Homo sapiens: one gene and its partner. The protein of the gene in region 1 purifies or fractionates together with the protein of each later gene. This does not show direct contact. Each region holds a gene or a part of one and is shown on either strand. Other genes may lie near its edges.

Region 1 (3,500 bases):
GTTATATTCCATTGTGTTGTGAAACCTCAGTATATGTGCTGGTTAATATTTCTTAGCAGTGCAGTCATATTTAAGTTGCAGATGTTTATTGGAGAAAATTGCCTGGCAAAACGTTAACTCTCAAATCTTTTTAATGAAGAAATATGTGATATATACAGTGGAAGATTGTCGTAGAGATAGTTTATGTTGTTATATATGTAAATAATGTTTTATTCATTTTGAAATAAGATACGTGGATTTTGCTGCTAAGCCTTCTGTAAAATATTTTAATTTCCTTTCTGGAATATGTCTGAAGGTAGGATATTAAAAGGAGTATCAGGTAATGTAACTGACAGGGGTAAACCAATTGAGTAAGGTTTGGCCAAAGCATCAAACCTTGTGTGGTAACTTAATGATGTTAGTCATCCGTAAAGGAGTGACATTAGAATTGCTTGAATTAGTTTTTACCATTTATAATTTCATGCTTTGTTGCATTTTAAAAAATCTGTCTTTTTCTTTTTCTGCTTTCTTCTATGTGGTTTTCTTCTTGTTCTACCTTTTTTTTTTTTGAGAGAGAGATGTACTCTACTAATGACCACATGCTGATTAATTCTCTTTAGATGGAATAGAAGGTACATATCCTTCTGTCATCAGCACCATTTCCCCTTGCTGTCATTGGAAACCACCAGTAGAGGATGCTAACAAAAATGATTATTGGTGTGGTAGCATCATAAGTCTCTCTATCGACTGTGCTGATTGGGACCTTCAGTATAATTCTGAGTCTTATTGTTACTTAAAACTAGCCTTGGTTAAATTAGGCATAAGCATTTTCTAGTTTGCCGAAACTAGAAAGAAGCAGGACTGTTTTAACTTGAATAATTTTATAAATTTGAGTTATTTAAGTCTCTAATTGAGATTGCTGTTAATTCATTCTTGTTTTAGAGCAGTTGTATTACTCCTTATTTTAAAAAGATTTTGTTTTATGTTCTTAGGTTTGGAGAAGAATATGTAATAATTGACCCATATTTATGTTGCATATTTAGAATACTTTTTAATCACCCCTTTTTAAAATTCATAGTAAGATCCCTTAAAATATATATTTTAGATGTTAAAATACATCTAAAATGGTCAAAGTTTAAGAGTAGCAAGGAAAATTACAATTGATTGATAATACTGTGTAATTATTTTTATATAACTTATGTAGACTTAGACTATGGATGGGTTGGCAGAGAGCTACTAACGGAGGTGGTAACTAGCAGTCACTTAGATGTTAGTGATTTTTAGATTTTATCTTTTCCTTCCCCTTCAGGTCTTTTCCTACTGGTAGCCCTCCCCCACCTTTTTAGTTAAGAATCAGTGAGTGCATACGTTTTAAATTTGTCAGTTGTAATTAAGGAATATAAGTTTGCTTTGAGATCTTATATGCAGTAAAACTCTGTAGTTCGTACGTTGCTGTATGCTTGTATTTAAATAATTCCTTTCAAGAAACTATATAAATTGCATATAAATAATTGCATGAGACTGTATTTAGTTATGTCTTTTCATTTTGTGTTCTTATAGGTATATTAATATAACTGTAAATTTTAAGCCTCTCATTAGGTAGAACATTAGAAGTATTTATTTCCTTAATTATTTTTAGTGGTGTTTTTATAAATGCATCAATATCAGTACCGTAATGGAATAGCCATACTGTTTATCTTGAACTAAGTAGGTATTGAATTGCCAGGTAAGCCTGTGTTAATTTCTTATTTTAGGATGTCATGGTTCTTCGTGTGTGTGTGTGTGTGTGTGTGTGTGTGTGTAAATAGTTTTTCATTTCCTGACAGGTATTTCTTGAATTTAGTATTCTAATTCCTGAGGGCTCAGTAGTGAATAGGTGTGATTCACTTAAATGTTTATGAACTCAGAAACTTTGCCACAAAGTCACGAGATACATTGTAGCATGGAGCAAAACTTAAAGTATCTTATAAATTGAAAATATTAATCGTTTATGAAGATGACCCTGATATAAAAAGCATGTGAAATATTTGTTTAATACTGTTTTCTTCCTTTCTCTAGTCTCTAGTATGTTTGAAATGGCATACCTCCTATGTAGTAGCTTTTGAAGCATGTGCTGAGAAACTTCTGTTAAATTGAGAATGATATTTTTAAAATAAGAGCATAATGATTTCTCATAGTTGTGTTTTTCTTTTGCTTTATCCTCTTGTGGATTTACCTGTATAAATCACTTTTAAGCATGTGGTTAGAGCCAGATGTAAACACAGATGCAGTATCATGTGGAATTATATTGTTAGCTACTCTTAACTACCTGTATTGAATTGCAGCAGAGGAGGAGAAAAATCATGCAGATGTTGGAAGAAGATATGCATTAGTGTGCAAGAGTACAGCGAGAGGTTAGAAAACTTGAAGCTGTAGAAATAGGATTGAAAAAGGTTTCTTTGCAGTACAGTCACTAATTTATGTGGAAATGCATGCTCTTTATTTCTAATTGAGATATAAGCTAAAATAAAAGTCCATTGTTGAAAGAAAACTCAAAAAATTTTAAACTAGAAAAAGTGTCCTGATTAGGAAATATGATAAAATGATTTTTTAAACTACTTTTTAAAGGGTAGATGTTGTACATATTACTGGCTAAATAATCATTCAACTAGATATGAACTAAAAGTAGTAAGCAAGTAGAAATATATGTAGTAGAGAAAGTTTTGTAGCAACCCTAGTTAAAATTAAATTTGATCTATTATGTAGGCATTGCCATATAAACTAATCATTCTTTTGCATGGGGCAGTGTTTTGAGTATTATGTCACTAAAGGAAACATCTTTAGGACATTAGTTTTACTAAATAAAAATTTCAATATGTTATGAGCATGTCTGGATTTTAGCCTTGATGGAGGTGGGTTACGCTGTTAACTTAAAACTGGGTTGCTTAAAAAGATGGCAATATAATACAGTACTTAAGTAGCAAAATGCTCTCTAATAAGTAAAATTTGCTTTATGATTGTTTTCAGAGAAAACAACTTAATTTTTAGAACTTCATTAATTTTGTTAAAGCATATTTTTGGATTATATAATATGGATGTAGATAAATGGAAAGATTATGAAAGGAAAAGCAAAAAATTGAATTCAAGTGTCTATTTGTATTATAGCTGTGAAACTTTAAGCTTTTTTCATTCTCTACAAAGTTACTTTTCTCTTTCTTCAAACAGCTCCCTGTTGTTTAATACACGTTCCCTCTATACATAGGGATTGCATTTATCTGTCCATATGCACATTTCTCCTCCTAATCAACATTATGTATTTATTGAGACTTGGTACATGGAGGTTGAGGTATGAACTATGTTTGTAGAAAACCTTACAGTATGGCAACCTGGGAAAACCTTCATCTCTTTTGCAGTAACAACTACATCTGTGCTGAAATTATTCATAACAGATGTTTTGTGATCTCTTAATTCCCTCCCTCTCCCTTCCCCTCCCCCATTCAGATTTAAAATTAAATGTGAATGGAAGATAAATTTATAAATTA
Region 2 (3,500 bases), about 42 Mb from region 1:
GGAAACATCTCAGTGACTAATAGAACAAAATCCAGATTATAAAAACATATTTGAAATGGTTAATTTCTGTGTATTCCCATGAGCCCAAATCACCCTGTATTTTGTAAATGTGGCCTCATAGTTCCTTTGGCCGGGCTGCCTCTCAGGACCCCAGGTAGGACTTGCCTCCCTGTATAGCATCCTGGATTTTTGCTGTTTGGTATGAGTGATTTTCAGGCTTTGCTTACCTTCCATGTCATCTGCATGTGAGACTAGCTGATTTTGTTTCCTAATTTGCAAGTAGAATGTGATTGGAATGCGACTTCACAGGTAGTGAAGAATATTGGCAAGGGCTCCACTTAATGTTACTGTGCAACTTTGGTGAGGGTGTTTAATAAAGAGGATTAACGTTACCTATTTACCTGAGTGTGAGCTGACCATGTGCCTTTTCTTTTGTGATCCTCTGAACTACTGACTCTACTTGTGCTTGTCTTTCTGTTTATTTTTACCATTCCCTGTGTGAATAGCTAGAAATGGGAATGGAATGTTGAGTTCTTTCTGTAAGTGTTCCTGTCAGTCAAGGCAGCTTATGACTAGCTCTCTCCATTTGTTTCAGTGAACAGCCTATCCCGCTCCAAGTATTGTTAAGCCAAGAGGCCCAACTGGAATCCGGCATGGATACAGAGTTTGGGGCCAGTTCTTTCTTCCATTCACCTGCTTCCTGCCATGAGTCACACTCATCACTATCTCCAGAGTCATCTGCCCCACAGCACAGCTCCCCCAGTAGATCTGCCTTGAAGCTTCTGACTTCGGTTGAAGTAGACAACATTGAACCCTCTGCATTCCACAGGCAAGGTTTACCTAAAGCACCAGGGTGGACTGAGAAGAATTCTCATCATAGTTGGGAGCCATTGGATGCCCCAGAGGGTAAGCTGCAAGGCTCTAGGTGTGACAACAGCAGTTGCAGCAAGCTCCCTCCACAAGAAGGAAGAGGCATTGCTCAAGAACAGCTGTTCCAAGAAAAGAAGGATCCTGCTAACCCCTCCCCGGTGATGCCTGGAATAGCCACCTCTGAGAGGGGTGATGAACACAGCCTAGGCTGTAGTCCTTCAAATTCATCAGCTCAGCCCAGCCTTCCCCTGTATAGAACCTGCCACCCCATAATGCCTGTTGCTTCTTCATTTGTGCTTCACTGTCCTGATCCTGTGCAGAAAACTAACCAATGCCTCCAAGGCCAAAGCCTCAAAACTTCATTGACTTTAAAAGTGGACAGAGGCAGTGAGGAGACCTATAGGCCAGAGTTTCCCAGCACAAAGGGGCTTGTCCGTTCTCTGGCTGAGCAGTTCCAGAGGATGCAGGGTGTCTCCATGAGGGATAGTACAGGTTTCAAGGATAGAAGTTTGTCAGGTAGTCTAAGGAAGAACTCTTCCCCTTCTGATTCTAAGCCTCCTTTCTCACAGGGTCAAGAGAAAGGCCACTGGCCATGGGCAAAGCAACAATCCTCTCTGGAGGGTGGGGATAGACCACTTTCCTGGGAAGAGTCCACTGAACATTCTTCTCTTGCCTTAAACTCTGGGCTGCCTAATGGTGAAACTTCTAGCGGAGGACAGCCCAGGTTGGCAGAGCCAGACATATACCAAGAGAAGCTGTCCCAAGTGAGAGATGTTAGGTCTAAGGATCTGGGCAGCAGTACTGACTTGGGGACTTCCTTGCCTTTGGATTCCTGGGTGAATATCACAAGGTTCTGTGATTCTCAGCTTAAGCATGGGGCACCTAGGCCAGGAATGAAGTCCTCCCCTCATGATTCCCATACGTGTGTAACCTATCCAGAGAGAAATCACATCCTTTTGCATCCACATTGGAACCAAGACACAGAGCAGGAGACCTCAGAATTGGAGTCTCTGTATCAGGCCAGTCTTCAGGCTTCTCAAGCTGGCTGTTCTGGATGGGGGCAGCAGGATACCGCCTGGCACCCACTTAGCCAAACAGGTAAGAATGCAACCAGGGGTTGGGGGGAGGGGGGAGGATCATATAAAAGCTGAAAGCAGGGAAAGATCAGAAGGGAGTGTTCTATACAGATACTATCCCCAGCTTAGTAGGAGGTAATAGAACTTTTGACTTTACTCAGAAAGCCTTCAGGACAAGACCTAGACATTTTTCTGGCTAGAGTGGAGGAAGGGGCAGAATTACCACTCATAGGCAACTTCCCTCCTTCTAAAGTAAGAGATTACTAAGTATTTGCCCATGGCTTCTCCAGTATGCTGTGCTAAAGAATGGTTCAGGGCCGGGCACGGTGGCTCACTCCTGTAATCCCAGCACTTTGGGAGGTCGAGGCGGGCAGATCACAAGGTCAGGAGATCGAGACCATCCTGGCCAACATAGTGAAACCCCTTCTCTACTAAAAATACAGAAAATTAGCCGGGCGTGGTGGTACTTGCCTGTAGTCCCAGCTACTCGGGAGGCTGAGGCAGGGAAATCACTTGAATTCGGGAGGCAGAGGTTACAGTGAGCTGAGATCGCACCACTGCACTCCAACCTGGGTAACAGAATGAGACTCCGTTTCAAAAAAAAAAAAAAAAAAAGAATGGTTCATAGGTGTTTGAGAGTGATTCAGCATGACAGCATGAAATGGAGGGAGGCTGAGAGGAAAATATATTCTTCTATGGCTTAGAATCCCAAGATTCAGCCTCCAGGTCTGCTTTGCAGTAGGATGTCCATATGCTCAGTGTGGACATTTCCAGATCATACTGAACCAGCAATATCAAGACCTTCCTGATCCCTTTAGGAAAAGTCAAGTTTGGTGTTCAAGGAATTTTTAATGTACTATATGCCTACAGGGTAGCCACTGACTGAGATAATACAGAGTGAAGAGTAGAGCCTGCACCTGAAGTGCACATCATAGTCAGTTCTGGAAATTGAAGACATGAAGAATGTTTGTAACTTACATTGATGCACTTAACTCCAAAGCCTGAACTATTTTCCTGATTCCAACATTAACTCTCAGTATAAATTTGGACAAGTCACTTAATATCCCAGGGCCAAGGTTTTACCTGTAAAATGAGAGAACTGGCTTTTTTTTTAAAAAAAGATATGTTCTAACTCTAAAATGGCATGTATGATTCTGTGAAATTGAACTTGGAGAACTTTTCCTTAGCTTGGCTGTGACAGTTTCTGTAATGGTGCAGGTTCCTTGCATGCTGACAACCAACATATAATTACAGTTGAGTAAGTGTTTATTGAGTACTTACTGTGTTCTCCAGAGCCTTTGAGGGGAATACCACATAAATATAAGATTTGATTTTTTATTCATTTTTTTTTTTTTCTGAGAAGAGTTGCACTCCTGTTGCCCAGGCTGGAGTGCAATGGCGTGATCTCAGCTCACTGCAACCTCCGCCTCCCGGGTTCAAGTGATTCTCCTGCCTCAGCCTCCCAAGTAGCTGAGATTACAGGCGTCCACCACCACACCTGGCTAACTCTTGTATTTTTAGTAGAGACAGGGTTTCACCACGTTGGCCAGGCTG

The links. Proteins that work in one complex are often made in the same cells at the same time.
Region 2: the proteins of ZEB1 (region 1) and USP54 purify together in Homo sapiens (affinity purification with western blotting; 2 studies listed by BioGRID, with this or other methods). This does not show direct contact.

The regions. Positions count from the first base shown.
Region 1 is NC_000010.11:31,322,216-31,325,715, forward strand, and holds part of ZEB1 (zinc finger E-box-binding homeobox 1), read left to right. Parts: intron 1-3,500. UniProt on the Homo sapiens protein: Acts as a transcriptional repressor. Inhibits interleukin-2 (IL-2) gene expression. Enhances or represses the promoter activity of the ATP1A1 gene depending on the quantity of cDNA and on the cell type.
Region 2 is NC_000010.11:73,514,843-73,518,342, reverse strand, and holds part of USP54 (ubiquitin carboxyl-terminal hydrolase 54), read left to right. Parts: intron 1-595; coding exon 596-1,968; intron 1,969-3,500.